Linked DNA regions of Homo sapiens: region 2 is linked to region 1. The links come from fine-mapping of genetic effects on plasma protein levels. A gene starts in region 1. The other region holds a variant in brackets. All regions are shown on one strand. Distances are between the middles of the regions.

The links. A credible set is the group of variants that fine-mapping cannot tell apart. PIP is the chance, under the fine-mapping model, that this variant and not a neighbour inherited with it causes the effect. The UK Biobank Pharma Proteomics Project read protein levels with antibody pairs (Olink). The fine-mapping took linkage between variants from a reference panel, not from the people measured, so its PIPs are less certain.
Region 2: its variant is the best candidate, but not a certain one, in a credible set for the plasma level of the GSTA3 protein (UK Biobank, PIP 0.90).

What each region holds. Positions count from the first base shown.
Region 1 is chr6:52,901,020-52,917,087 of GRCh38, reverse strand. It overlaps GSTA3 (glutathione S-transferase alpha 3), which reads left to right and starts at 7,390. Exons shown (of 7, transcript NM_000847.5): 1 at 7,390-7,447; 2 at 11,233-11,340; 3 at 13,361-13,412; 4 at 14,610-14,742. The coding sequence starts at 11,254. It overlaps LOC105375091 (a long non-coding RNA gene), which reads right to left. Exons shown (of 4, transcript XR_926877.2): 3 at 14,255-14,321; 4 at 11,334-12,607. RefSeq lists enhancers at 6,500-7,193, 7,194-7,886.
Region 2 is chr6:52,747,025-52,763,092 of GRCh38, reverse strand. GSTA2 (glutathione S-transferase alpha 2) reads left to right here. Exons shown (of 7, transcript NM_000846.5): 2 at 5,116-5,232; 3 at 6,784-6,835; 4 at 8,018-8,150; 5 at 10,098-10,239; 6 at 11,385-11,516; 7 at 12,394-13,006. The coding sequence starts at 5,146. The coding sequence ends at 12,516. Among named protein-coding and RNA genes, the nearest start is that of GSTA2, 8.4 kb to the left of the region's middle. The variant A/C (reference allele first, on the strand shown) is at 6,458.

The DNA of each region.
Region 1 (16,068 bases):
GGCATCCACCACCACATCTGGCTAATTTTTTGTATTTTTAGTAGACACGGGTTTTCACCATGTTAGCCAGGATGGTCTTGATCTCCTGACCTTGTGATCTGCCTGCCTTGGCGTCCCAAAGTGCTGGGATTACAGGCATGAGCCACCGTGCCCAGTGCCACCCAAGTGCTCTTAAATTTCCTCGCCACCTGTGGCTACAAGGTTTCCAAACCAAAGGCTCAGCTCTGCTCACAGCAGGTTAAATACTTAGGGCTAAAATTGTCCAAAGGCACCAGGGCCCTCAGTGAGAAATGTATCCAGCCTATACTGGCTTATCCTTATCCCAAAACACTAAAGCAACTAAGAGCGTTCCTTGGCATAACAGGCTTCTGCCGAATATGGATTCCCAGGTACAGTGAAATAGCCAGGTCATTATATACACTAATTAGGAAAACTCAGAAAGCCAATGCCCATTTAGTAAGATGGACACCTGAAGCAGAAGTGGCTTTCCAGGCCCTAAAGAAGGCCCTAAACCAAGCCCCAGTTAAGTTTGCCAATGGGGCAAGACTTTTCTTTATATGTCACAGAAAAAACAGGAATAGCTCTAGGAGGCCTTACACCGGTCTGAAGGATGAGCTTGCAACCTGTGGCATACCTGAGTAAGGAAATTGATGTAGTGGCCAAGGGTTGGCCTCATTGTTTATGGGTAGTGGCAGCAGTAGCAGTCTTAGTACCTGAAGAAGTTAAAATAATACAGGGAAGAGATCTTACTGTGTGGACATCTCATGATGTGAATGGCATACTCACTGCTAAAGGAGACTTGTGGCTGTCAGACAACCATTTACTTAAATATCAGGCTCTATTACTTGTAGGGCCAGTGCTGTGACTGTGCACTTGTGCAACTCTTAACCCAGCCACATTTCTCCCAGACAATGAAGAAAAGATAGAACATAACTGTCAACAAGTAATTGCTCAAATATACGCCACTTGAGGGGACCTTTTAGAGGTTCCCTTGACTGATCCTGACCTCAACTTGTATACTGATGGAAGTTCCTTTGTAGAAAAAAGGACTTCAAAAAGCGGGGTATGCAGTGGTCAGTGATAATGGAATACTTCAAAGTAATCCCCTCACTCCAGGAACTAGTGCTCAGCTGGCAGAACTAATAGCCCTCACTTGGGCACTAGCATTAGAAGAAGGAGAAAGGGTAAACATATATACAGGATCTAAGTATGCTTACCTAGTCCTCCATGCCCACACAGCAATATGGAGAGAAAGGGAATTCCTAACTTCCGAGGGAACACCTATCAAACATCAGGAAGCCATTAGGAGATTATTATTGGCTGTACAGAAACCTAAACAGGTGGCAGTCTTACACTGCCAGGGTCATTGGAAAGGAAAGAGAAATAGAAGGGAACCGCCAAGCAGATATTGAAGCCAAAAGAGCTGCAAGGCAGGACTCTCCATTAGAAATGCTTATAGAAAGACTTCTAGTATGGGGTAATCCCTTCTGGGAAATGAAGCCCCAGTACTCAGAAGAAGAAATAGAATGGGGAACCTCACAAGGACATAGTTTCCTCCCCTCAGGATGGCTAGCCACTGAAGAAGGAAAAATACTTTTGCCTGCAGCTAACCAACAGAAATTACTTAAAACCCTTCACCAAACCTTTCACTTAGGCATTGATAGCACCCATCAGATGGCCAAATTATTATTTACTGGACCAGGCCTTTTCAAAACTATCAAGCAGATAGTCAGGGCCTGTGAAGTGTGCCAAAGAAATAATCCCCTGCACTGCAGGCCATACATTTCAATCCCTATATCTTTAACCGCCTTGTTAAGTTTGTCTCTTCCAGAATCGAAGCTGTAAACCTAAAAATTGTTCTTCAAATGGAGCCCCAGATGCAATCCATGGCTAAGATCTACCGCAGACCTCTGGACTGGCCTGCTAGCCCATGCTTCGATGTTAATGACATTGAAGGCACCCCTCTTGAAGAAATCTCAACTGCACAACCCCTAGTATGCCCCAATTCAGCAGGAAGCAGTTAGAGCAGTCATCAGCCAACCTCCCCAACAGCACTTGGGTTTTCCTGTTGAGAAGGGGTACTGAGAGACAGGACTGGCTGGATTTCCTAGGCCGACTAAGAATCCCTAAGCCTAGCTGGGAAGTTGAGTGTATGCACCTTTAAACACGGGGCTTGCAACTTAGCTCACACCCAACCAATCAGGTAGTAAAGTAAAGGCAGTGAGGGCAAGAGGGCTAGAAAGTCTGAAAGTGAGCATGGCTAGGTGAGGGAGGAAGAGTGGCCAACATGAGGCTGGACAAATAAAGAAGGTGGGTTATGCAGGGCTTTGTAAACTCTGTTGAGTTTGGATTTCACCCTGAGGGCATTAATGGCTCACTGAAGGTTTTGAGCCAGAAAATCATGCAGAAGGCCCAAGAACACCAAGTCCAGTGTGCAGAACACTGCAGCACTGGGGCCAGAAGAGAGGGCAACCTGCTGACTGGACAGAGATTGAGAAGGAAATGGTAGGACACACAGGGAGATGGGGGAGTAAGGGTTGATGGCAGATTTCCAGCCTGGGCAACTGGGTGGACCAACAGTGTGGAGCTTTAATCTCTGAGATTTGAAACCTGATTTCAGTTTGGGACAGGGTCAGTTGGAGTTGCCTGAGGGGTGGGTAGGTGAACATGCCAGAAGGCAGATGTACAGGATCGGGGGTCTGATGCCCAGGAAAAAGGTCTGTGCAGAGTATCTTCCCAGAAACCTGCCCTGCAGTTCAGTTGCTGATTTCACTAAACTCTTCTGGCCACACCTAACGGAGTTAATGTGCCCAACTAGAGTTGCCCAGACCTTTCTCTATCTCAGAGAGACGTGGGAGGGATTGCTGTCCCAGGGGAAAACGGATCAGAGTGGCTCTTCCCAGGGCTGGCTCCAGGTATGGAAGTTGACACCATCCTGTCTCACTCCATGAATGGGATGTGCCTGTGTTATAGGAGTCCTAACCAGTGACCGGGACACACTCTCCACTCTCTCTCCTCACACCCCCCACAGAATGGGACACAAGCCGTGTCAACTCTACCTCCTAACTACCTCACATATCTCTTTCCTTGTCCCATCTCCTTCCACTGTGTGGGTCAGAGCCTCATGGTTTCTCATCTCCACCACCCCAGGGTCCTCCCAGTGGGTCTCCTTGCTGGCAGCTTCACTTCGCTCTAGTCTCTTCTTCACTTACAACCAGAGTAGGTTTGCTCAAACACAAATCTGAATATCACTGTCTTTCTTTAAATTCTTCAGTGAGTCTCCATGTCATGCAGGATGCATCCTCACCACAGTCCTCACTCTGTCATCTCCAGCTCAATAAGCCCCTTGGGAACAGCAAGGCCTCCTTTCTCCCTGCCTGGGTGCATTTGCTAGCCCTACCTGGCAAGCTCCTTCCCACTGGCCACATCTAACTCCTATCTCATTGCTTTCTGGGAGCTTTGGCCTCTCCTCTGTGCCCTCCCAGAGTCCTGGTGAGCCTCTAATAACACCTGAGGGACACTGTGTCTGCACAATAGTCCTGTGACCTCCTGGTGTGGGGCATGGCCTGCTGGATCCCCATTCCTGCACCACCAATGAACAATAACACCTGCACAGCTCCACGCATATTTTGAGGAACTGAGGATATGAGGCTGGGCTTTGAGATCTCACAAATCCCCACACCCTCTGCCCTACTCTGTATCTCATCCATTTCTGCAAAACATACTGACAAATGTCCCTCAAATTCTATGTATGGACTTCGTGGGTCCTGACAAAAATAAACCAATGGCAAAGAAATTTTTATGAGACAATTGAGGAAGTGTGCATGCAGTTATTTGACAAAATTAAGAAACATAAATTTTTAGTGTTAGAATAGAATGGTGATGTCCAGAAAAAAAGCACTTACATTTTAAAGAAACATACTAAAGTATACCTCCAGCAATACTAAAATGCATATGCAGTGTTATTCATTGCAGCATTGTTTGTAATTCCAAAACATTAGAAACAACCTAAATGTCCACACATACAAGAGTGCTTGCAGGCCAGGCATGGTGGCTCACATCTGTAATCCCAGCACTTTGGGGGGCCGAGGTGGGCCGATCATGCGGTCAGGTGTTCAAGACCAGCCTGGCCAAATATGGTGAAACTCTGTCTCTAATAAAAATACAAAAATTAGCCAGACGTGGTGGTGCGCACCTGTAGTCCATAGTCCCAGCTACTTGGGAGGCTGAGGCAGAAGAATCACTTGAATCTGGGAGGCAGAGGTTGCCGACAGCCGAGGTCATGCCACTGGACTCCAGCCTGGGTGACAGAGTGAGACTTTGTCTCAAAAAAATGAATAAATAAATAAAGAGTGCTTGCATAAACTATGATGCATTCATACGATGGAGTATTTTGCAGCTGTAGCAAATAAAGGAAGACATCTATGAACTTAGATGGTGGTGATTTCTAGGACCTATCATTAAGTGAAGGGTGGGGGAACCAACAACCACACAAAACAAAGAGCAAAAAAGTATTATGGTATGCTGCCCTTTATGTAAGAAAGAAGGGGTTGTAAGGAAATATGTACTTGAGCAAAAGAAAAACAAAAGGGGAAAGTTAGAAATTAGTGAGATTTGTTGTCTACAGGGGGATGAGTGAGAAATGGGTGGGAAAAAGAGGGACTAGGAATGGGAATTAGGGACAGAGAGAGACAGTGTCTCCAAAGACACTTTTTCATATAACTCTGGCTCTTAGAATCATGGTAAAGTTTTGCATACCAGAAAACTAAGTAATTAATTAAAACCAACCAGGATGTAAGGAAACCGCAAAGTGGAATATACAAACACTAACAACCTAACAGCATTTCAAATGAATAGATTACCAAACTGAAGGAGGTGGGGGGGAAAAGAACTGACCTAAATAACCACAGAAAACCACAATTTTGACTGGATATTGTAAGGCTTAAGACCAAAAAAAAAAAAAAAAAAAAAAGAAGGAAAGAAAAATACTGTACTCTTGTTAGTAGATTTGTTTTTCACAGAGGTATGCATTGGCAATTCTGCAACTATTTTACTTGTACTAGGATTAAACAAATATGCAAATATTGTATATTTTAGATAATCATAGCCAGGTTTCTCACTTGTCAGAGAGGTTAGAAATGAAAGGACACGGCTAAATGAATCTATTGAATTGAAATAGTAGGTATCTGTATGAACTCATGGTTTTTTATCATATTTATACAGATAGCTATATAAATACATACAGAAGTGTATGTATGTGTGGGTTAATATACATACATATATTTCCCACTGGGGAGAGCCTAGAAGCATTGAAAACCCAGAAGCAATGAGTACACATAGTTCCGAGATCCTAGTTTTCAAATACCTTCCCCAATAAAAGGAAACAAGGATCTTTGGAGAAATGGTTGACTTCAAGGCTGGGACACAGACAAGACAAGATAAGCCTGGAACATCTTTGGCACAGAAAGTATCTGGAAATGCTCACAATAAGAGAGGAGGTTTGCCATAAAAGACACAGAAGCCAATCTGAAGGAGCTCCCACAGGCTAAAGGTGGATCAATTTGAGCAATAAAATAGATATCGATGGTATTAGATTGTAACCTTTAGAATAAAATATCTATAAATCTGTACTAAGAAAATAATTGAATGAATGGAAGGATAAATAAAGGAGAAGAGACAGCTTTTCTTTACAGAAGAATTCGAATTATTAAATGTAGATGGAATGAGGGAAATAGAAAGTCACTATTAGACAAACACTACAGTAATATTTGCTGCAGGCAAGATCCATAATGGATGCTAAAGTTAGTGAGCAGAAGCTTATTTTGAAACTGACTATTTTTATAGTCACAAAGTATCTTCCACAAGATATTTATGAATTCCAAAGGGATAAATAGTAATATTACGGTTGATGAACCTGGCAGACGCTACTTTAATCAAGGGATTAAGGTTAAGATCAAAATTAATAAGACATACCATGTCTCGGATATGAAATTATGGGTGGAAATGATCAGCTGAGACTGGAACAACTGCTGTGACATTTTGCAAAAAATGTATGTCGTCAATCGAGTCATGAGAAAACATCAGATAGACCCAAATTGAGGTACATTCCACAAAATAATTGACCATTACTCTTCAAAAATGCCACCATCATGAAAGACAAGAAAAGACTGAGGAACTGCCATAGTTTGGAGGTAACTAAGGAGATGTGACAACGAAATGCAGTGCTGGGGTCCTGGATGGGATCCTGGGTTAGAAAAAAGATACTGATTGAAAAACTGGTGAAATTCAAGTAAGGCCTGGAGTTTAGTCAATAGTGTATCAACATTAAATTCCTGGATTCAATCATTGTACTATGGTTACATAAGATGTTAACATTAGCGGATGCTGGGTGAGGGGTATTTGGGAAACTTGTACTAGTTTTGCAATTTTTCTGTTACATAAATAACTCCCCCACCCACAAGTTTAAAAGATACAGATTAGATTATAGAGGAAAAAAACTAAGTCTGAGATTTGCTTCAAATATTGTCAATAATTTTTGAAGCAAGGTGATGGGTACATCAAGGCTTTGTAGTGTTCTTTCCAGATTTATGTATATCAGACAATTTCCTTTAGAAAAGTAGAAATTACATATACGTGTATTAAGCCCTTTCTATGTCCAGGCACTGTGGTTAGCCACGGGGACTTGGTTAACCACCAGGACTTGAGGCCCTGCCTCAAGGAGCTCATACTCAACAGGGGGAAAGCAGACATGATGCACGGAATGTAGAAAGAGTGATGTGATAGAGGAAGCACAGGATGCCTTGGAGCAGGGGAGAAAAGAGTGCTCCAAATAGGAGAAACAGCATGCAGAGCCTTGGGCTAGGGAGAAAGGCTAACTGGTAAGTCACAGAGAAAAATCTGCAAATGACCTCGGGGAATGCAGCTGAGGTCTTTTGTCTGCCCAGGGCAAGGACAACTCAGCCAGATTCTTTGGGCCTATAAAATTTTGTGACATTATTTGTAATTTAGTCTTTTTAAACAAATTTAGAAGGCAATCTCCCTATGCTCTTTATCAAGTCCCCTTTCCTGACATCTCCTATGACTCTCCTATGACACTTTCCTCCTCTCCCCACAATGTTTTCTCATCTGTCATAAATCTGCAGCCTATTTAACAAGATCCTCCTTAAGCAGTGTTCACAGGATACTTGGTCCCCAGTGACCTTCTGAGGCAGCCAAATAGATATGAAATCTTTTTGTGCATTTATGGATAGCCTTGAAATTAATTGCTGTCATTTTCTTCCTAGCAGATCATGGAACTCTGGAGACTAAAGTGGTGTGGGAGTGGCTGCTCCCAACTAGACTCCACCCCCTTCAGAAGGCAGGAGTTGTCATAGTATTAAAACAGCTAACATACACATCAGGAGGTGGCCTTGAGAAGCTGAGCGGAGACCGGCTAGACTTTACTCAAGTTAGTATTGACCTTAAACATCTTCATAAATGTTCTCATGTCTACTTCACTAAGAAAAACAAATTTAAATGTGTTAGTTTGTGTGAGTACTTTATGTTCTTGCTGTTTTTCTGTGTGCTTAGGAGACAATTTAAGCATTGTTTGTTAGTTCCTGAAGGACAGGTCGGTAAAGAAAAATAATATTCAACAATTTAGAAAACAAGGGCAAAGAATTTGATGATATGAGAAAAGTAAGAGTGGTATCATTGTGGGCAATCTGAAAATACAACCACATCAGTGCCAGGCCACATGCCAAAGGTTGCTTATGGAAAAGCTGTTTATTAAAAACATGTATTCGTGTGATTCATTCCTGTGATTCACAGGAGTCAACACACAATTATACTAGATTTAAAGCTGGCAGGGTCACACATTTGGGAGCACCACTTGATCAATGAAAAGAAAATACATCTGGATGGTCGTATTCCTCTAGAGCTGGCACTTCCAAATGGGAAACCAATCACCAATGCTTGACAATCAGGATCTAAATTTACACTTCCATCATTGATTTTACACAGATTAGTTTACTGCTTATATAAGTGACTTTGTGATTGAGCACCAAGCAGCATGCTATTTTTCCTTCTTCTTCTCCTCCTTCTTCCCTCCTTCTCTTTGTTCTCTTTGCCCTCTTTCTTCTTCCTCCTCCTCTTTTTCCTCTTCTGCCTCTTCTTCCTCCTCCTCCTTCTTGTTCGAAGTATCTGGGACCAAAGGGTGAGCAGGGTTTAAAGTCTCAAAATTGCAAGTGAATCTAAATATATAGGACTTTTAGGGTAGTAGGCAAGTAGATCTAAGAATAATAATAACCCCCTCTTAAGCTGTTATATTCCCTGTCCAACAGAACATGCACATTCCTTCTATATGCAAGTTCTTTCTATTTGCCAAATGAAATATTACCCTGGGCTACCCTGCCAAAGCACTTATCCAATTAAAAAAAAATATTTTTTGTGTAGTCACGATGTTTCTACTATGTGGGAGAGTTTGGTTGCTTTGATAATTCTTTTTAAACAGCAGATTGGTGGGTTTCATAATTAGGATTGGTTATTTTATTGCCATAATCCTAGCTTGGCTTTTTTCATGCTTTTTGTTTGTTTTGAGACAGTCTCATTCTGTCACCCAGGCTGGAATGCAGTGATGTGGCCATGTTTCACTGCAGCCTTAACATCTTGGGCTCAAGTGATCTTCCTGCCTCAGCCTCCTGGGTATCTGGGACTACAGGTGTGGGACACCAATCCTGGCTAATTTTTTTTTTAAATAGAGACTTTATTTAATTGCCCAGGCCAGTCCTGAACTCCTGAGCTCAAGCAATCTTCCCTCCTCAGCCTTCCGAAGTGCTGGGATTATAAGTATGAGCCACCATGCCCAGCCCTAGTTTGTTTTTTAATTACTCTATGCTACTGTAGTCTAAAACAGTGAGCGCTATAGGCAAATGGCAAAAAAAAAAAAAAAAAGATTGCTCTTGAGATATCTAGCCATGTTATATCCTATAAAGCACGGACTGAACTTTGAGCAATGCACTACACTGTGCTTAAAGACTATGACAACTTCTCTGCTTCCCGGGAGCTCACAGTTTGAGGGGTGGGGGACATAAAAATGGTAACTTCTTTTTTTTTTAATTTATTTATTTATTATTATTATACTTTAAGTTGTAGGGTACATGTGCACAATGTGCAGGTTCGTTACATATGCATACATGTGCCATGCTGGTGTGCTGCACCCACCAACTCATCATCCAGCACTAGGTATATCTCCCAATGCTATCCCTCCCCCCTCCCCCCACCCCACAACAGTCCCCAGAGTGTGATATTCCCCTTCCTGTGTCCAAGTGTTCTCATTGTTCAATTCCCACCTATGAGTGAGAACATGCGGTGTTTGGTTTTTTTGTCCTTGCGATAGTTTGCTGAGAATGATAGTTTCCAGCTTCATCCATGTCCCTACAAAGGACATGAACTCATCATTTTTTATGGCTGCATAGTATTCCATGGTGTATATGTGCCACATTTTCTTAATCCAGTCTGTCATTGTTGGACATTTGGGTTGGTTCCAAGTCTTTGCTATTGTGAATAGTGCCACAATAAACATACGTGTGCATGTGTCTTTATAGCAGCATGATTTATAGTCCTTTCGGTATATACCCAGTAATGGGATGGCTGGGTCAAATGGTATTTCTAGTTCTAGATCCCTGAGGAATCGCCACACTGACTTCCACAATGGTTGAACTAGTTTACAGTCCCACCAACAGTGTAAAAGTGTTCCTATTTCTCCACATCCTCTCCAGCACCTGTTGTTTCCTGACTTTTTAATGATTGCCATTCTAACTGGTGTGAGATGGTATCTCATTGTGGTTTTGATTTGCATTTCTCTGATGGCCAGTGATGGTGAGCATTTTTTCATGTCATAAATGCTCTTAATGGCTGCATAAATGTCTTCTTTTGAGAAGTGTCTGTTCATGTCCTTCGCCCACTTTTTGATGGGGTTGTTTGTTTTTTTCTTGTAAATTTGTTTGAGTTCATTGTAGATTCTGGATATTAGCCTTTTGTCAGATAAGTAGGTTGCGAAAATTTTCTCCCATTTTGTAGGTTGCCTGTTCACTCTGATGGTAGTTTCTTTTGCTGTGCAGAAGCTCTTTAGTTTAATTAGATCCCATTTGTCAATTTTGGCTTTTGTTGCCATTGCTTTTGGTGTTTTAGACATGAAGTCCTTGCCCATGCCTATGTCCTGAGTGGTATTGCCTAGGTTTTCTTCTAGGGTTTTTATGGTTTTAGGTCTAACGTTTAAGTCTTTAATCCATCTTGAATTGATTTTTGTATAAGGTGTAAGGAAGGGATCCAGTTTCAGCTTTCTACATATGGCTAGCCAGTTTTCCCAGCACCATTTATTAAATAGGGAATCCTTTCCCCATTGCTTGTTTTTGTCAGGTTTGTCAAAGATCAGATAGTTGTAGATATGCGGCGTTATTTCTAAGGGCTCTGTTCTGTTCCATTGATCTATATCTCTGTTTTGGTACCAGTACCATGCTGTTTTGGTTACTGTAGCCTTGTAGTATAGTTTGAAGTGAGATAGTGTGATGCCTCCAGCTTTGTTCTTTTGGCTTAGGATTGACTTGATGATGCGGGCTCTTTTTTGTTCCATATGAACTTTAAAGAAGTTTTTTCCAATTCTGTGAAGAAAGTCATTGGTAGCTAAAAATGGTAACGTCTGCAGGCTGTAAATAGTCAATAATGAGGCATAACAGGAAGAAACTAGTCTGAATGTCAGAAGACCTAGGTTCTAATCCAGACTTTGACACTAACTAGCTAGTTGGCAAATTGCACATACTTTCTTTGGGGTTCAACATATTCATTACAAACCTGGAGGAAGGGCTAGCTAGATCCCTTCTAGCTCAATAATTTGGGAACTCTTGAGGGGAGAACTAGATATATCAATAGAACATATAGTTTTTATAAGGCACATGAAGTCACCAACTAGGTTGGAACATAATGCAAGTCAGTAGTGCCTGGAATAATTACCAACATAAAAATAAATAAATGAAAACAAAGGTCTTACACAGGAAAGCCTCAGAATCTCAGAGGGACCCTGTGAAGTCACATTGGTGTTGGACCTGTCTAGTGCAAACAGAATTCAGAGGTGGAAACAATCCTGCTATGAGGAAGGAAGACACTCCTGTTGTTCAACCATTCATATACTAGCGTGCATTTTGCTTCTCTAGACTCATTCATTCATCCATTCATGCATTCATTCATTCATTTTAGAGAAACCAAGAGACTGTTACCATGGCAGGGAAGCCCAAGCTTCACTACTTCAATGGACGGGGCAGAATGGAGCCCATCCGGTGGCTCTTGGCTGCAGCTGGAGTGGAGGTATGTTCTAAGTTAGGTCATCTTAAGTTGGACCTAATTGACTGTATCAAAATATTTTAGTAAGCCAAGAGACTTCCATACTAGATGACCTGTGAATATTTTGGCCTCAAATAAAAGCATCCCCAGTTATTTTTTTAAAATGGACAAATTTTACCAAATGAAAATTTAAAAATCTGTCCATTAAAGAGCACATGAAAAAGAACACATGAACAATTAAAATATATTTTGAAAAGAATTAACTAATCACAATGAGTGGACCTTATTTGCATTAGGATTTAAACAAACTATAAAATATAACTTATGACACATAAAAATTAGAAACCTGAATATTGATTGAATGTTAGATAATATTAAAGAATTACTGTTAAATTTTTTAGTGTCATTTTGTGATGTTAGGTATGATGTTTCTGTTATGTTTCAGAGATACACACTGAAGTATTTAGGATGAGATAATATGATACCTCAGATTTGTTTCATATTATGACAGAGGAGGAGAGAAGCTGGGCATACAAATGAAAGACAGGCTTGGGTTGGTGATTACTGCAGCTAGATGATTGAAACAAAGAGGACCATTGTATTTTATGTGTATTTTTTATATATATGAGAAATTTATACAATAAAATGCTAAGTACATGGAAACTAAATGTCATTAAACATAAACTATAAACCACAATGAGGTCAGGGAGGGAGTGGATTGTGACAAACTGCCTGTTAAATACTGAGTATATTCAGCCAGTGGTTATTTTGTTGTGCACCTATTAAGTGCCAGGTTCTGTCCTGAGGATTGGCAGTGAACAAGGTAGACACAATTCCTGCCCTAAGGCAGACTACATACATGTCTACAAGGACTCAGATAAGAAAACACGTGGTTAAAATCAGGGGTGGGGGCTTCTAGAACACCCAGGCATTCCCCAGTGTTACCAGGCCATCCTCCCAGTGTTTGAGCAGGAAATGCTGGGAGGTGTCTGTGGGACTCCGCTAAGTGCTGCCTTCTAGAGGTGTCACTGAGAAAAACACTTCCCAGTCCAGACCAGAGTCCCTCAGTAACTAACTGCCTGAGGGTTTTCCTCCAGAGTAAGTAATGGAAAAACTCAGAAGATCTTGTCCCTCGGGTGTCAGCAGAAAAGGAGGGTTTCAGGTGAGGTGGCGTCCTGTGAAAGGAACTTCTAGCGCGCCCCTTCAGCCTCACAGCGCTGTGTGGACCTGAACCTCGGGGCGGCACTTTCTCCAATGCTTCACGAGGGCTTGGGACTCACCTTTCTCAAACCTATGAGGAAATAAGCACACAAGAAATCCACACACTTCCATTCCAGGTTGTTTTCTGTGTACAAATGAATACCCTGTTTCATTGTCACCCAGACATCAGCTCTGCAGCTCAGTGCCTTTCCTCCAGTGACGTTCCCTCCCTAATCATGGACATTTGTGAGATCGTGGGGAGGTGAAGTAAAAGACGGAGCAGGCCAGGAGCAGTGGGTCACACCTTTAATCCCAGCACTTTGGGAGGCCGATAGGGGAGGATTGCTTGAGCCCAGGAGTTCAAGATGAGTCTAGGCAACACAGCGAGACCCCAGCACTACAAAATAGAAATAAAAAATTAGCTGGATGTGATGGTGCATGCCTATAGTCCCAGCTACTCAGGTGGCTGAGGTGGGAGGGTCACTTGGGCCTGGTAGATCAAGGCTGCAATGAGCCATGATCATACCACTGTACTTAAGCCTGGGCGACAAAGTGAGACTCTGTCTCAAAAAAATAAATAAATAAATAAAATAAAAAAGAAGATTGAGCAGTTCTGACCCATTGTCAGACCCATGAGCATGAGCATGGTCTGACCCATGCCTGTTTCTTGAGGGATAAAATCTAAATTTCCAAGCGGCCATGACCAGCTTCTTCTGTGTCCCCTGCCAAACTCAGAAATCTTATGTTCTCCAAATTATGTACCAGATGGAGGCCATTCAAGGTCACAAGTCTGTAATGCTATGGAACGAACTAACAAGAACCCATTTACTGTTTCTGCTTCCAGTTTGAAGAGAAATTTATAGGATCTGCAGAAGATTTGGGAAAGTTAAGAAATGGTAAGATCAAGTCTCTAAGTGCCTCTGATGAGGGTATCTAGTAGAGAAGGTACCGCTGAAGATTGATTTTTTTTTTTTTTTGACGGAGTCTCGCTGTGTTGCCCAGGCTGGAGTGCAGTGGCATGATCTCGGCTTACTGCAAGCTCCGCCTCCCAGGTTCATGCCATTCTCCTGCCTCAGCCTCCCGAGTAGCTGGGACTACAGGCGCCAGACACCACACCAGGCTAGTTTTTTTTTTTTTTTTGTATTTTTAGTAGAGACGGGGTTTCATCGTGTTAGCCAGGATGGTCTCGATCTCCTGACCTCGTGATCCGCCCGCCTCGGCCTCCCAAAGTGCTGGGATTACAGGTGTGAGCCACCGTGCCCGGCCACAGTTGAAGATTTTAACACCAGGCGATGCCTATGTGTGTGTGGGGTGGTAGCTGTGGTGGTGGAGAGGGAGAAGGTGGTTAAAGTGGAAGGGATGTGGCTCCCTGAACAGGTCTGGCAACTATCTCCAGGCTAAAAGGCCAGACCTCTCAGAGTATCTGCTAGAGGAACCATCCCCAGTGCCCTGAGAATGCCCTTTCCTTGTTTTCATGCTTGGGGCACCGTGAATGAGCTGAGGTCATCAGCTCAGGATCCCACACAGCCTTCCCCATCCAAGGACACACAAGAACATGAATAAGACGAAAAGAATAGAAATAGATGTGGCCATTACCTTGAGTTGTTTTCTTTCATGGGTCATGTGATAAGGTCATATTGTAGTAATACTGTAGGCTTGGAAGAACACAGAAAGGGACCTCTGCATAAAATTGTGTCTCAGAACCTACTTTAAAGGCCATGAACACCATGAGACTTACCCTGAGAAGTTCTCATTTTAAGTGACATCTCTCTGGCACTCCCGTTGTAACCTGTCTCAGCTTTTTCCTAAAATATCATGACGATAAATCAACGCAAGTAAAATACAAGGGACCTACTATGTACCTGGATGGGGAATAAAAACATAAATGAAATAACAGGCTAAAAGGTCAAAGGAATCAGGTCAGAAAAAGAACTACAGGCAGCTAAAATCAAAATACTATTTCGTTTTTGAGGTTAGCAGGCAATAATTTCTTTTTCATTTTATAACCTCAGTCATTTCAACCATCATTTTTCTTCCTGAAATAGTGGGATTCATAGAAATTTCATGTTCCTTTTTTTTCCTTCTTTCTAAAGATGGGAGTTTGATGTTCCAGCAAGTACCAATGGTTGAGATTGATGGGATGAAGTTGGTACAGACCAGAGCCATTCTCAACTACATTGCCAGCAAATACAACCTCTACGGGAAAGACATAAAGGAGAGAGCCCTGTACGGTATATTTTGTGTTCTTCCATCCACAGAGAACACAGAGTGATTTAGGTCCTTCCTTGAGTGGGTGAGACCATGACAGGGCATCATGACCAGGAGCAGGCTGGGCCTTGGGCGTGTATACTGAGGTCCAGTATTGCAGAGTCCCATGGGGATGAGGAAACAGTGAACGTGAGGAGGGTTCAGGTGAGTGTGATTCTAGAAGAGGATGCATTCCATGGATCCAGCACCCTGACAGAGGTTTCCAAACACTGATGAACCATGAACTCAGGAGGATGGGGAATAATGATTCCAGGTGCTCAAGCCTTCAGAGGCTGGACTCCAGCCAACAGCTTAGGACAGGCATAGAATGTTTGAGAGTCTGTAGATGAAGGCCTGGGGAGGGAAGACTGCAAAGAAGCTGAATCTCAGGTCCCAGTAATTCCAAGAATGATGCCCAGGAACCCAAGTTACCAGCCAATTATATGGACTGGTCAACTTGAGCAGGGCTAGTAGAGGCTGGCACCCAGAACTCTGGGGTTGCCTGGAAACATGGATTCAAGGCTGAAGCAGCTAGATTTATCGAATACCAGCAAAGCCATGGGGTCTCCTCACTGTTGCAATAGGGCTGCCTGATTCTAAATAACATCCTATGTGAAACTGTTGGCAGTTCTTCAAAAAGTTTAGTGTAGAGTTACCAATGACCCAGCAATTCCTCTACTAGGTATATACCAAAAGAATCAAAATACTTCCACACCAAATCTTGTACATAAACGTACAGTGCAAATAACGGCAATTTTCATGGTATTCAAAACGTAGAAATAACCCAAATATCCATCAACCAATAAATGGAGGAACAAAGTGTGCCTTAGCCATGCAATGGAACAATATTTACTCATGAAAAGAAATGAAGTACTGATGCATGCTACAAGAAAGTTGAACCTTAAAGACATGTTATGTAAAAGAAATTAGGCACAGAAGTCCACATATTGTAGGATTGTGTGTATGAAATGTCTAGAATATTCAAACCCATAGAGGCAGCAAGTAGACTAGTGGTTGCCTGAAGCTAAAAGGTTTGGGGTTTGGGGAAAATGAATACTCAATGGGTACAGATGTCCTTATCAGGGTGATAAAAATATTCTAGAATTAGAGTGTGATGATATTTGCAGAATTCTGTAAATGTACTAAAAGTGACTGAATACTATAATTTAATGGGTGACAACGATAATGTGTGACTATACATCAATGAAACTGTTGTTTTAAAAAGTACTGTGGAAAACCTAATTAAACACAAAAGAAAAAAAGGTTTCCTAAAATATGTCCTGGTTGTAACTGTGTATAGAATTT
Region 2 (16,068 bases), 150 kb after region 1:
GTCAACACACAATTGTAAATTGTGACACTGTAATTCTATATTGGCTGTGAAAATTCAAAACTAAGGTTTATTATAATTAGAAAAAATTAGTTTGAATGTTAGGAGGACTAGATTCTAGTTGAGCCTCTGCCACTAATTAGCTCGACGACAAGTCATATTCTGTCTCTGGAGTACTACCAACTCATGGCCAATATAGAGAATAGCTAAGAAAGAGGCTCTGACTGTTGCTGCGAACTGTGTAATTCTTTGAACGGAGATCTGTCCTGCCCACTCTAGGATATTTCTAAGCATCCCTGAAGGGGTGGCCTGCCCCTCCACACCTGTGGGTGTTTCTTGTTGGGTGGGATGAGAGACTGAGAAAAGAAAGAGACACAGAGACAAAGTATAGAGAAAGAAAAGTGGGTCCAGGGGACCGGGGCTCAGCATATGGAGGACCTGCGCTGGCGCCAGTCTCTGAGTTCCCTCAGTATTTATTGATCATTATCTCTACCATCTCAGAGAGGGGGATGTGGCAGGACAATAGGATAATAGTGGGGAGAGGGTCAGCAGGAAAACGTGAACAAACTCACGTCTCTGTGTCATAAACAAGGTTAGAAAATGTGCTGTGTTTTGATGTGCACATACATAAACATATCTGGTGCATTAAAGAGCAGTATTGCCGCCAGCATGTCTCACCTCCAGCCTTAAGGCAGTTTTCTCCTATGTCAGTAGATGGAACATACAATTGGGTTTTACACCAAGACATTCCATTGCCCAGGGATAAGCGGGAGACAGATGCCTTCCTCTTATCTCAACTGCAAAGAGGCCTTCCTCTTTTACTAATCCTCCTCAGCACAGACCGTTTATGGGTGTCGGGCTGGGGGACTATCAGGTCTTTCCCTTCCCACGAGGCCATATTTCAGACTATCACATGGGGAGAAACCTTGGACAATACCTGGCTTTCCTAGGCAGAGGTCCCTGCGGCCTTCCGCAGTGTTTTGTGTCCCTGGGTACTTGACATTACTGAATAGTGATGACTTTTAACAAGCATACTGCCTTCAGGCATTTGTTTACAAAGCACATCCTCCATAGCCCTAAATCCATTAAACCTTGAGTCCACACAGTACATGTTTCTGTGAGCACAGGGCTGGGGGTAGGGTTACAGATTAACAGCATCTCAAGGCAGAAGAATTTCTCTTAGTACAGAACAAAATGGAGTCTCTTATGTCTACTTCTTTCTACATAGACATAGTAACAGTCTGATCTCTCTTTCTTTTCCCCACACATCCCTGCCCTCTACCTATCTGATTTGTAGCCCCCCTCCCTCTCTGCAGATATAGCAACCCAAAATGTCTCTAGACCTTGCTCAATGTCCTCTGGAGCAGAGGAACAAAATCCCCCTGGTTGAGAACCATGGGACTACATGACCTCATGGGGCTAAGCAAGGCTGTGTTACCGATGTGCCCCACTGCTTGGACATTCACTGAAAACTTCCTGTTAATCCAGGTGGGCTGATTAGTGAATATCATTGACCTCTGTACAGGAGCTAAAAAGCAAAGAGAGAGAGAAACAGAGAGCCATCATATGACAGATTTGATATAAGTCTGGATTCATATAAAATCTTATTCCTACTAGAGTTCTACGGACAAAATATAGAGAACCAGAGAAATGGATACAAGATAGATAATAGATGATGAAGAGACAGATTACAGAGAGATAGATACATAGAACGATTGATAGATAAAATAATACATACATGGATGGGTAGACAGAGATTATAAACAGATACATGTACATAGATTGTTGGTTGGTAAAATAATTGGTGGATAGATAGATCAAAGAAAGAAGATCCATGGGCTACTCAATGTGTCCAGAGCCTCACCCATCTTCCAAGCACTGGGACAAGAGCAAACACCCTGTGTTCCTACTATGATTTTTTTCTACATTATCTCATTTAACTTTCTCAACAACCCTCAAAAGTAGAAATAACTATCTCTAATCTAAGAAGAGAAAATTGAGGCTCAGAGATTAAACAACCTACTGCATTTATGAATCTCATAATGGAAGGAGTCATGGTTTATCTCATTCTCCCTTCTCTCTGATAAGAAACAGTGTCACTGGGACAACCTCAGAGACGTAACTCCTTTAATTTACTCCTGGAAATATGAGACCTTATAGTCCTTTCAAAACAAGCCCATTTTTTAATTGATGTAAATTAATTATTGATGTAAAGTAATTACACTAGTCCTCAACTCACTCTGGTTTTTAGGTTGTCAAAGTAGAGAAAGGCACACTTTTATTAGTTTTTTCTTCCAAGCAAGCCCCTGAAAAGTTGCTAACAGGAGGAACTCAGGAATTAGATGTTCCCCTCTCGCCCTCTCCTTCCAACATTTATTTGGCTAATATACATTGAATAGGAAAATACAAAACAACTTCTCAGACAGGAGCTGAGAGCCAGGTTATGAGGTGGAGTGGAAAAGCTCCGGACCTGCAATCAGAAGTTCAGGCTGACCCAACACTCACCACGTGTGCAGCATGAGACAGGTGCTTTAGCTCTCTGAAATTCAGTGTACCCATCTTTAATTAGGATAATAGGAGCCATTTCCCAGGGTTGTTGCAGAAGGTAAACACACTCCCTAGATATTGACTATGAATGAGGAGCATGTGTGTATGACCCATGGCAAATCCTTGAGCTCTCTGGTTCTCATTTTCTGTTGACCCAACAAAGCTCAATGGTAACTTATGTCTCAGTCTTAGCCTGACCCTTGGAAACCTCACATTGAGGAAGTGATATGTTAATTATCAGCTGGAGTGTTGTGATAAAATATTATGTAAGATAAAATTTCACTTCCTTTTGAAACATGATCCTCGATCAATGGCTAAGAGAGTTTATTTTGGGGATTGGAATTATGACACTGTGAACTCTAGTACATAACAATTAAACAAGCACACCCTACGCTTTCATGTGAACTTCACTCTCCCTTTCATTCTGTCGAATTATGCTATTTCCATTTCCCAAGTTACTTTAATTTACTCCTGGAGTTATCATAGAAAGTACAATGTCAAAATATCTAATTACAAAACAGGTGAGTTGATTCAGTATGATTTCAAAGAATTCTTTACTTTCCAAAGGTTAAACTATTGACTCCCATATTTTAAAATGTAGACATTTAAAAGATTTTGATGCCTAATTTTAATCATGCATACTTTTTTAGAAATACATTAGTTGAGGTTGGGTGCAGTGGCTCATGCCTGTAATCCCAGCACTTTGGGAGGCTGAAGTGAGTGGATCACCTGGGGTCAGACTTTCGAGACCAGACTGTCCAACATGCTGAAACCCTGTCTTCACTAAAAATGCAAAATTATCCAGGTGTGCTGGCATGTGCCTGTAATCCCAGCTACTCAGGATGCTGAGGCAGGAGAATCACTTGAACCTGGGAAGCTGAGGTTGTAGTGAGCCAAGATCGCGCCATTGCACTGCAGCCTGGGCAAAAACAGCAAAACTCTGTCTCAAAAAAAAAAAAAAAAAAAAAAAAAAAAAAAAAAAAAACAAATAAATACATTAGTTGTTAAAGGCAAGTATATTTTTGTTCCACACTCAACAACCACAAAACTTTGCAAGAAGAATCTTAATGTTTAATAACAGAGCTGGGGGTTTGGTGATAAAACGCAACTATTCCTAAGTCCTGGCACTGGAACTCCTTCTTTCAATGAGTCCTGTGTCTTTCCATTCACATTCATGATACAATTAGTTGCATCTGTCTCTGCAGCCACTGGTTTTCATTCTCTGATACTCTGCTACATTCCACCACCCAAACAGCCTGGCATAGAGCAAGGGCTATCAAATTTCACTGATAAGCCCAGTCTCTAACCATTTACAATGACCAAGTGAGCATGCACACATGCAAAGATCCATACACACAGTATACAAATAACTGAAACTAACAACTCATGAAACATTACTTACCTTTCAACATGTCATGCTCACTGATATTTTCTATTCTTTTCTTTTCTATTTATTTTTTAAAGTAATGGGATTTCACAATCTGCTGAGAGATTACCATGCATATTTGAGAAACACTAACATAGAAAATAAGACTCAGTATTTGGTTTTTAATAGCAGTGACCCTGGATCCCAGATCTATCATTTACTCTGAGCAAGTTACTTTAAAAACCTCAGTATCCTCAAATGTAAAATGAGAATAACAACCACATTAACCTTAGGTAATTTTTGTAGGATAAAACAAAGAGAAGTTTAGAAGAATGATCAGTGTGTGACTGATGTTGAACAAATGCTAGCTCCTTCCATATTGCAAAATTAATGCAGCAACATCTCTTCTTCCAGCTTATAAAACAAAATGCACCCCATAGAGTTAGAATACAGAATTCCAAAAGAAGCAAGGGATAAACAATCTCTGTCTCTTGAAAGAATTTGGATCTTCTAGCTACAGTTAAACAAGTCTGAGGCCTAATTTCTGGTTTTGATCAAATGCAGTCTCACAGCCAAAGAGCTGAAGAGTGATTTAGCTCCCAGCCGGTCCTCCCTGTCAGTGACATCCTCTGGTTTCATGGCCAGTTCATGGGTTCCCAGGGCCTTCACCCAGCTGGCTTCCAGGCATGATTTCATTTTAGTCCTTGGTGTAGATATTCATGTCCATCACCAACCGGAGTGTGACTGTGAACATTGTATTTCTCTGATGTTCCATTTCATTAACGAAAAAATGGAGATAATCATTTCATGGGACTATAAGGAGGGTTAAAGATATAAAATATTGAAAGGGACTAGCATTGAGGAAGGATCACTAGGAAGTTTTCAGTAAATATTAGTTCTTGAATTCTTCCTCTTCCCATTAACTCCTATACATGTATTATTACCACATACTCTCACCTCTTAGGCTGCCAAGAAAATTCAGAGTTAAACAGTGAAAACTTGAGACTGGTTTGCTGGAATCTGAGGGTGGCCACTGCTGGGTAATAATTTGAGCCAAGAAAACATTCCGGGAACTCCTCCAACACCGTCATGAAGAAGGCAGGTTCTTCTTCAGCATTGTTTGTGGTTTTCAACCATACATCCTAAAGTACATTTTTGATTCTATCGTTTCAATTATTCATTCATTCATTCATTCATTCACTCAGGCTTAGAGAAACCTCCAGGAGACTGCTACCATGGCAGAGAAGCCCAAGCTCCACTACTCCAATATACGGGGCAGAATGGAGTCCATCCGGTGGCTCCTGGCTGCAGCTGGAGTAGAGGTAGGTTCTGAGTTAGGTCATCTTAAGTCAGATTTACGATTGCGTTATCACATACTTTTCCCACAGAAACTATGAGATGATTACTAACTGAAGCATTGTGCCTTAAATAAAAAGGGACTGTAATTAAGAAAAAGATGAACAGATTTGACCTATTAATTCTTAAAATTTCTTCTCCTCTAAAAGCATACATATTAAAATACATTTAAGACACTAATCACAAAGTGCAGAACTTAAGTGGATTAGAATTTAAACAAACTGTAAAAAATAATTTATGGCATTTATACAACAATTAGAAACACAAATATCGATTGAATATTTGAGGACATGAAATAATTATTGTTAATATTTCATGTGTGATAATGTACTATGGCTGTCTTTAGAATAGTTAATGTGTTTTAGGAAAACACATTGAAGTATTTAAGGATTAATCATATGGATCTGGGATTTCCTTGGAATTATTACAAGAGGAGAAGTAGGTGGGCATATAGATGAAACCATATTGGTTTTGATTGATAATTATTGATTCTAGGTGAGAAGTATAAGGAGAATCATTATGCTTTTCTGTTTATATTTATTCATGTTCATAATTTCCACAATAAAAAAATAAAAATGCATAATATTAAAAAATGATTGTAATTAGAGGTAAAATGCAAACTACAAATGAGAGATGGAAGGGAGTGGATTGTAACAAACTACCTATTAAAGATTGACTACATTCACAGCAATTATTTACTTGAGCACTTATTAATTCCAGGTTCTGTACTCGGTCATGGAGATAGTGAACAAGACAGACACAGTCCCTGCCCTGGGGCAGCCTACGTGTCTATGAGGATGCAGAGAAATAAACACGTGGTTAAAATGAGGGGAGGAGGCTTCTAGAACACACAAGCATTCCCCAATGCCACAAAACCACATCAGAAACCAGAGGTTTTCCTTAAAAATAATGCTAGTGTGGGACCCTAATTCCTTTATTAAATTGAGAATTTTACCCTATTGTGTCTCACGTACTTCAGAAGAGAAAATTACAGTTGCAAGTGTGAAAGCTGTGCAACAGTGGCGACCTATGTCACCCTTAGCAGGGTTCCTGAGAAGTGGGGCGATACAAATTACAGCAGAGGCTCCTTGGTGGCAGAATATTTGATGGCCATTAGCCCATGTCATGCCTCATGCTGGGGACACACAAGGTTGTGGTCTGATCTCACTTGGAGACACAGGCTTTCCTAAG[A/C]TATGACAACACCATAACTAGAAGAACTGCTCAGTGCCTTTTCTCCAGTGATGTCCCTCTCAAAACATGACCTAATCATAGACATTCATATCAAGGTGGAGGTGAAGTGAACTAGAAGATTGAGCAGCTATGTGCTGTGACCCATGCACTTTTCTCAATGAATTAGGTCTAAATTTCCAAATGGCCATGACTAGCCCCCTCTGTGTACCCTGCCAAACTCAGAAATCTTATATTCTCCAAATGATGCACCAGATAGAGGCCATTCAATTTCACAGGTCTATAATAGAATGAACTAACAAGAACATATTTACTGTTTCTGCTTCCAGTTTGAAGAGAAATTTATAAAATCTGCAGAAGATTTGGACAAGTTAAGAAATGGTAAGATCAACCTCTAAGTTTCTCTAATGAGGGTATCTAGTAGAAGGTACACGGGGAGGTTTGCGCAGCCGGCAATGTCTATGGGTGTGGGGCATGGTATTTGTACATGGTGCAGAGGGAGAAAGTGGTTAAAATGGAAGGGATGTGGCTCCTTGAGCAAGTCTGGCAACTCTCTCCAGGCTTAAAGGACCAGACCTCTCAGAGTATTTGCTAGAGGAACAATCTCCCACCCCTGAGAAAGCCCTTTCTTTGTTTTCATGCTTGGGGTACTGTGAGTGAGCAGTGGTCATCAGCACAGGATCCCATACAGCCCTCTCCATCCAAGCACATGCAAGAACATGCATTAGACAAAAGGAGGAGGAATAGATGTGGCCACTGTCTTGAGTTTTTTCTTTCATGGGGGGAGTGGGACTGGGTAACACTGTAGCAATATCGCAGACTTTGAAGAGCACAGAAAGGGACCCTTATATAAAAACCTCTCAGAACCTGCCTTAAATATCATAAACACCATGAGACTTACTCTGGGAACATCCTGTTTTAAATGACATCTTGTTGCCAGTACTATTGTAACTTGTCCCAACCTCTTCCTAAAATATCCATGAAGATAAATCAACACAAAAAATTCAAGAGTCCCACTATGTATCTGGAGGGGCAACAAAAACATATATGAAATAAATGGATAAAAACTAAAAGGAAACTTCTTAAGAAAAAGAAGAACTACAGGAAGCTTTATAAACATATTGTTTGGACTGGGTGCAGTGGCTTACACCTGTAATCCCAATTTGGGAGGCTGAGGCAGGTGGATGACTTCAGTTCAGGAATTTGAGACCAGTTTGGCCAACATGGTGAGACACCATCTCTTCTAAAAATACAAAAATTAGCCATGTGCAGTGGTGCATGCCTGTAATCTCAGCTATAGAGAGGCTGAGATAGTAGAATCGCTTGAACCTGGGAGGCAGAGGTTACAGTGAGCCAAGATCACACCACTCCACTCCAGCCTGGACAACAGAATGATACTCTGCCTCAAAAAAAAAAAAAAAAAGTTGTTTCAAGTGAACTCTTACCAGGCAGTAATTTCTTTTTCGTTTTACAAATTTAGTCATTTCAACAACCATTTTTTTTCATCCTGAAATGGTGGGTTTCATAGACACTTCACTCTCCTTTTTTTTCTTCCTCTTAAAGATGGATATTTGATGTTCCAGCAAGTGCCAATGGTTGAGATTGATGGGATGAAGCTGGTGCAGACCAGAGCCATTCTCAACTACATTGCCAGCAAATACAACCTCTATGGGAAAGACATAAAGGAGAAAGCCCTGTACGGTATATTTTCTGTTCTTCCATCCACAGAGAACATAGAGTGATTTAGGTCCTTCCTTGAGTGGGTGGGACCATGGCAGGGTATCAAGACCAGCAGCAGGCTGGGCCTTGGGCATGCACGCTGAGGTCCAGTATTGCAGAGTCCCATGGAGATGAGGGAACAGTGAACATGGGGAGGGTTCAGGCGAGGGTGATTCTAGAAGAGGATGCAGTCCATGGACACAGCACCCTGACAAAGGTTTCCAAACTCTCATAAACCCAATGAACTGAGGAGGATGGGGAATCATGTTTCCAGGTGCTCAGGACTTCAGAGGCTGGACCCCGGCCAATGGCTTAGGACAGGCATAGAATATGTGAGAGTCTGTAGATGAAGGACTGGGGAGGGAAAGCTGCAAAGAAACCAAGTCTAAGGTCCCAGTAATTCCAAGTATGATGAACAGGAACCTAAATTACCAACCAATTATATCAACTGGAATACTTGAGCAGGGCTAGTAGAGGCTGGCACCAAGGATACTGGAGTTACCTTGACACATGGATAGAAGGCCGAAACAGCCAGATTGATTCAATACCAGCAAAGCCAAGGGGTCTCCTTGTTGTTGTGATGAGACTGCATGATTCCAAATAAATCCTGAATGAAACTGCTGGCAGCTCCTCAAAAACTTTAATATGGTATTACCGATGACCCAGCAGTTCCTCTAACAAGTATATCCCCAAACAATCGAAAATACATCCACACTATATATTTTACATAAGTGAATAATGCAAATAACAATATTCATAGAATTCAAAAAGTGGAAACAACCCAAATATCCATCAATCAATAAATGGAGGAGAAAAATGCGCCTTAGCCATGCAATGGAAAGATATTTGGTCATGAAAAGGAATGAAGTACGAATGCATGCTACAAGATGGTTAAACCATAAAGACATGTTACATAAAATACACGAGACACAGAAGGCCACATATTATAGGATTATTTTAATATGAAATGTCCAGATATTCAAATCCATAGAGGTAGAAAGTAGATTAGTGATTGCCTGGGGCTAAAGGAGTGGGGCTTGGAGAAAAATGAAGAATACCGCTAATGGTACAGATGTCCTTATCAAGGTGACAAAAATAATTCTGCAATTAGACTGTGATTATTTTTACAGAATTCTGTGAATGCACTGAAAACCACTCAATAGTATAACATAAGAGGTGGCAATTATAGTATGTGAATATGCATCAGTAAAGCTCTTGTTTTAAAAAGTATTGTGAAACTCCAGTTTGACACAAAAGAAGAAAAGTTTGCACGGTTGTAACTGTACAGAGAATTTCACCAGGGAAGGGGTTGGCTCTTAAGAAAGGCACACATGGCTAGAGTTGGGCAACAGCACATGGAGAGGGCTGTGGAAACGTTTTTCATGGGTGTAATTGGAAGAACTGCAAATATGGGGCATAGAAGCAGCCCTGGGAGCTGTAAAATGATGAGAGAGGACAAGGAATATGGCTGAGATGGCTGTGCCAGGGACTCTCTTAGGATTACTTAGGAAGCAGGTCTTTGGCCATTTGACTCACACTAAGTTCATGCACAGAACAAACCACAATGGAGATGATAAATCCTGGCACAGCATCAGTGGGTACTGGCAGTGATTCCACCAATTTCTCTCATGACTGTGACCACCGATGATCTTCTTCCTGTATTAGGTCATGCGTGTAACAAAATTTAGAGAGCTATCTACCTTGATAGGCTGTTTTAAGAAATAAATGTTAATATACCTGTAAAACTCAGAGCATAATGACTATATACCTGTAAAACTCAGAGCATAATGACTAGACTATAAAAGGCACTCATTGGAGGTGAATTATTTTGCCATCACCTGATACTCTACTCTCTTAGGTTTTTATAAACCTATAAAATCTAAGGCAAAAGATATTTGACCATTTGGTTGTTTTTGTCTTTCAGGATTGATATGTATATAGAAGGTATAGCAGATTTGGGTGAAATGATCCTTCTTCTGCCCTTTAGTCAACCTGAGGAACAAGATGCCAAGCTTGCCTTGATCCAAGAGAAAACAAAAAATCGCTACTTCCCTGCCTTTGAAAAAGTAAGTGAAGCTGTTCAGTGTTTTGGGGAACTGAGTTTAGAAGCCAGTAGAAAAATAGTGGCTGGGCATTCCTGGGGCACTGATCTTCACTTTCAGTGATACTTCCTGGACACCAATGCAGCACTCTGACTCTCAAGGCATTTTATGAAAATAGACTTGGAGAAACAATTGTATCACTTATACCCAAGCTATAATCTTCCAGTAAAATTTTAATTTACTGAACCCCAATATGGAATTATCTGTTCAACAGAATTTTGTGTTCATAAGTAGAATGTGGGCTGTGGAAGGCTCTGGACCACACTAGAGTTGCTGTTCAGTCTATGGAACCCCATGGACTTTGAACAGGGGCATGATGAAAGTGATCCATCAGAAAACATTCTGGCACCATATGCAGGAAGACAGGAGACCAATTGCCCAACCAGAGAATATTGCAGTGTTTCAGGGATCAGTATTTTTTAAAAGGAGAGTGACTGTGGGATGCAGAGGAAGATTCTGTAAAATGCATTTTATAGTAAGTTGCAGACATCAGAGCAGTTCACTCCTAAACGCTTCAGCTTGCAGATTATAACATAGTGCCATTTAGGAACCAGAGTCGATGCTGTAAAAAAGATGATGAATTCAGGTTCACCCAGGTTTCCTACAGATCTCAGGGAGATAGAGCAGGGAATGAGGAGAACAGACAAGGAGAAATGAGGACTCTGAAATAGTCTCCTTCTGGGGGAAGAGTGTTGTCACGATGGTGGAGTCACTGCCCAAGGGAGATTGGAGCGGGAGACAGCAGAATGTAGAGCCACATCCTGAATGTGAGGGCTCCACACTGCAGGGCCTGGGGCAGACAGAACATGCGGCGGCAGGTGCTAAGCCCTTGGCCCATGTGGAAGAAGCAAGCTGGGTGGGTAGTGTAGACGCCACAGTGATGTGGATGAGAAGAGAAAATGGGAGGCTGAGCTCCAACTGAGGAGTGAGTACAGTTACACTTCTTACTATCTCATTCATTCAGATAATGTGGAGAAAGCTCGGGATTTCTGCATCCATGCAGTAAGGCAACAGAGGTGGGGAAAGTCAGGGTGGAGAGGCTCTGAAAGAAGCAGGGGTCCCAGCCTGGGTGGGCATGTGTTCCTGATCTGATTCCTCCCATTCTCCAGGTCTTAAAGAGCCACGGACAAGACTACCTTGTTGGCAACAAGCTGAGCCGGGCTGACATTCACCTGGTGGAACTTCTCTACTACGTGGAAGAGCTTGACTCTAGCCTTATTTCCAGCTTCCCTCTGCTGAAGGTGACCCATTTCACAGTCTTCAGAGAGGCAGACCCACATCTCCCATCTTGGGATCTTGTATCTGGGCCCTGGGACTGAGCATGTTTTGACCCCAGCCTTCTCCAGGCCTTTGGTGCCCCAAGGTCTCCAAAATGAGCTTCCAGGCTCCAATTTTGAGGAATGAAAACACTTTTGTTATGGAAAGGAAATTTGTAGTGCATGCTACCCCGCAAAGAGTATTTTGCCTTTTATTATGGAAAGGACCCAGGGCCCAGCATGTCTCCCCATCCCTCTATTTCAGTGTGGTTTCTGTTCCTGAGTTCTCTGTGATGTCCTTTATCCCATATGTGCCCACATTGAGTCAGTCTGAGCAGAGCCCTTTCCATCTGGTTTCCTCCCTGGGCTCCGGCTCCTGCTGTCAGACATTTTGTTCCTCTCTGCCCAGCTCTCCAGCACTCTGCCCCCGACAATGTATCTCTCACTGAGAAAAGGTGGTCCCATGGTTTGTCTTTACTATTTTCTATAACATTTTCCTTTCCAACTCATTTTCCCATATTTTCACTTCTGCTTAGAGACTGATCTGTGCTGATATCAAACAAGCACATTAGTTTTTCTTGTCTTATACAAGAGTCACTAATCTATAGGATTAATATGTAAGAAGAAAGATAGGGATGACTGAACTGATTAAAATTTCAAGACATCTTTGGGGAAAATAAAGTGAGCTACATGTTCTTCCTCTTATCTTCCTTTCTCACTGGGTGTCTGTTTCTGCCTTCACCCAAGTGGAAGCGACTCACTTGGTCTTTGGCAGGAGGGACTCAGATTCCCTGGGTCATGTTAATGGGGGTGTCAGCCCTTGACTTGTTGTTTTAGTGAGGCTGTGCTTTGTGGATTACAGGCCCTGAAAACCAGAATCAGTAACCTGCCCACAGTGAAGAAGTTTCTACAGCCTGGCAGCCCAAGGAAGCCTCCCATGGATGAGAAATCTTTAGAAGAATCAAGGAAGATTTTCAGGTTTTAATAAACCAGCCATAGAGGTCAAGAACATGCAAGACCAGTATTCTAAAGTTTTGCAACAATTAAGTGCTTTACCTAAGTGTTGATTGTGCCTGTTGTGAAGCTAATGAACTCTTTCAAATTATATGCTAATTAAATAATACAACTCCTATTCACCCACTTAGTTAAAATTGATTTCTTCTCATTAGGATCTGATGTGAATTCAGTTTTCCAATCTCCTCCTAGCCAACAATTTTCTTGGAATTACAAATTCAGTAAAAATGGAAACTATAAATTATGTGGTTTGTTTGACTTTTCCAAGAATTGCCCTGTAACATACAATTTGTCATACAATCTATTAAAATGCCAATGTAAAAATGCACCTCTGACATTTTCAGGTATGCACAGGAGAAGAGTTACCATCCTGGATAATGGCATAAAGACATTTTCTTCTTTTCCTGAACAGTCATTTTATTTCTGATAAAAGCATTCTTTCTAATGCATTTGCAAAACAACGATTCTGTCTGCTGTGGATTCCTCCGTTTTCTAGGAGGTGAGGAAATATTGAAGAGCAAACAGACCCACCCTCTGCTCTCAGGCCACCTTGTTGTCTCTTACAGTGCATGTGGTCCTGGCTTATCCTCACTCTGCTCCTTAAGCCTCCATGGGGTCCCAGGCATAAGCCTTCTCTCAGTTCCCTCAGTGCCACTCAGACCTGGGCTGCCAAGATACAGATGGTATATGTGAATTACATACAAATAACTATATGCAAAATCATTTTTCCCTGGTGTGTCACTGTGCCAGAGTGCTTAGATTAGGAGTGCTTTCTAGCTCCACCCCCATACTGGTCCTGTAATGCTAATCTCTCCCAGGACACCTGGGCTTCTGCAATTTGAGCTCTCCTCCTCTTAGAGGGAGCTTCCCCAAGTTGGCAGAGGTGGTTGAGGGAGCAGACAGACACACAGGCTTCCTACCTGCAGCTTCACTTTGCTCTAGTCTCTTCTCCACTTACAACCAGAGTAGTTTTTCTAAAATGCAAATTGGAAAAAAAAAATCACAGAATTCTTCAGGGAATCCTGACTGCATATAAAATCCATCCTCACACCTGTCCTCACTCCTTGATCTTCAGCCCAGTCAACTCTCTGAACATGGTGAGGCCTCTTGCCTTCCTGCCTGGGTGCATTTGCTACCCCTACCTGGCAAGCTCCTTCCCAGTGGACACACTTAACACTACCTCATTGCTTCCCAGGAGCACTGGGCTGTCCTCTGCCCTCCACAGAGCCCCAGTGAGCCTCTTGTAGGGAAAAGAAAGAGAGATCAGACTGTTACTGTGTCTATGTAGAAAGGGAAGACATAAGAGACTCCATTTTGAAAAAGACCTGTACTTTAAACAATTGCTTTGCTGTGATGTTGTTAATTTGTAGCTTTGCCCCAGCCACTTTGACCCAGCCACTTTGACCCAACCTGGGGCTCACAAAAACATGTGTTGTATGAAAACAAGGTTTAAGGGATCAAGGGCTGTGCAGGACGTGCCTTGTTAACAAAATGTTTACAAGCAGTATACTTGGTAAAAGTCGTTGCCATTCTCTAGTCTCAATAAACCAGGGGCTCAATGCACTGTGGAAAGCCACAGGGACCTCTGCCCTTGAAAGCGGGGTATTGTCTAAGGTTTCTCCCCATGTGATAGTCTGAAATATGGCCTCATGGGATGAAAAAGACCTGACTATCCGCCAGCCCAACACCCGTAAAGGGTCTGTGCTGAGGTGGATTAGTAGAAGAGGAAAGCCTCTTGCAGTTGAGATAGAGGAAGGCCACTGTCTCCTGCCTGCCCCGGGAACTGAATGTCTCGGTACAAAACCCTATTGTACATTTGTTCAATTCTGAGATAGGAGAAAAACCGCCCTATGGTGGGAGGCAAGACATGTTTGCAGTAATGCTGCTTTGTTATTCTTTACTCCACTGAGATGTTTGGGTGGAGAGAAACATAAATCTGGCTTACGTGCACGTCCAGTCATAGTACCTTCCCTTGAACCTAATTATGACACAGATTCTTTTGCTCACGTTTTTTGCTGACCTTCTCCTTATTATCACCCTGCTCTCCTACTACATTCCTTTTTGCTGAAGTAATGAAAATAATAATCAATAAAAACTGAGGGAACTCAGAGGCCGGTGCTGGTGCAGGTCCTTGGTATCCTGAGTGCTGGTCCCCTGGGCCCACTATCGTTTCTCTATACTTTGTCTCTGTGTCTTATATCTTTTCTCAGTCTCTCATCCCACCTGACTAGAAATACCCACAGCTGTGGAGGGGCAGGCCACCCCTTCACCTCTAATAACACCTGAGGGCCACTGTGTTTGCTCCCCTGTACTGTGAGCTCGTGGTGTGGGGCTTGGCCTGCTGGATCCCCAGTGCTTCATCACCAATGGACAATGACATCTGCACAGACCCATGCACAGCTCTATGCAACTCCAGAACCTGGGTATATGAGATTGGGCTTTGAGAACTCACAAACCCCCACACACTCTGCCTGTCTCTATTCATTCATTAATTTCTAAAAAAAATGGACTCATATCCCTCAAATGCTTTGTAAGGACTTTGCTTGCATGCTGACCAAAATAAACAAACTGCTAAGAAATTTTTATGGGACACTTACATGAACTAGAATGCTGAAGCTTTGATGAAATTAGGGAATTATAGAATTTTAATATGATAAGAGATTATCATATTAAACACAATCATAGTGTGATTATGTTTAGAAAAGAAGTTCTTCCTTCCTAGAGATGAATACTAGTATTTACAGACGAAATGATATGCTGTCTGGGATTTGCTTGAAAAGAATCCCCTGGTAGTGGAGGGAGTATGTGGGAGTTTGTATCATTTTCTTGTGGCTCCTGTCACAGATTCCTACAAACTGGGTGGCTTGAAACATCAGAAAGGCATTTTCTTACAATTCTGAAGGCGAGAAGTCTGAAGTCAGGGTGTGAGTAGGGCCACATTCCCCTGGAAGTACTAGAGAACAATCCTTCCCTGCCTCTTACAGCTTCTGGCGGCTCTTGGCATTTCTGGACTTTCATGGATCATGGCCACATCACTCTACTTTCTGCCTGGGGCTTCCAGCACCTCACCCTCTGTGTGTCTGTGTCTTCTATTCTCTACGTTGCAGGGACATTTGTCATTGGATGTAGGGCCTATCTGGATATACCAGGATGATCTCATCTCAAATTCCTTAACCTCATCTGCAAAGAGCCTTTTTCCAAATAAGGTCACATTTACAGGACTCAAGGATTTGGACATGGACCTCTCTTTCTTGGAAGCCAACATAACTTAATCCACTGCCAGGCATAGATAAAAAAATGTTGCTGGCAATTGATGAATGCAGGTCATGGGTACCTTCAAGCTTGTTATATTATTCCCTCTACTTTTGTATTTGCTAGAATTTTTCCATGTAAATTTTTAAACTATCTTATTTTAGGAGCTCCTATGATGTCCATGTTTTGTCCCAGACAATAAGGACTGGACTCAAACAAGAAGGCTCCGCTCTCAAGAACTCAAGGTCTAAGGGGAAATCTGATATTGAAT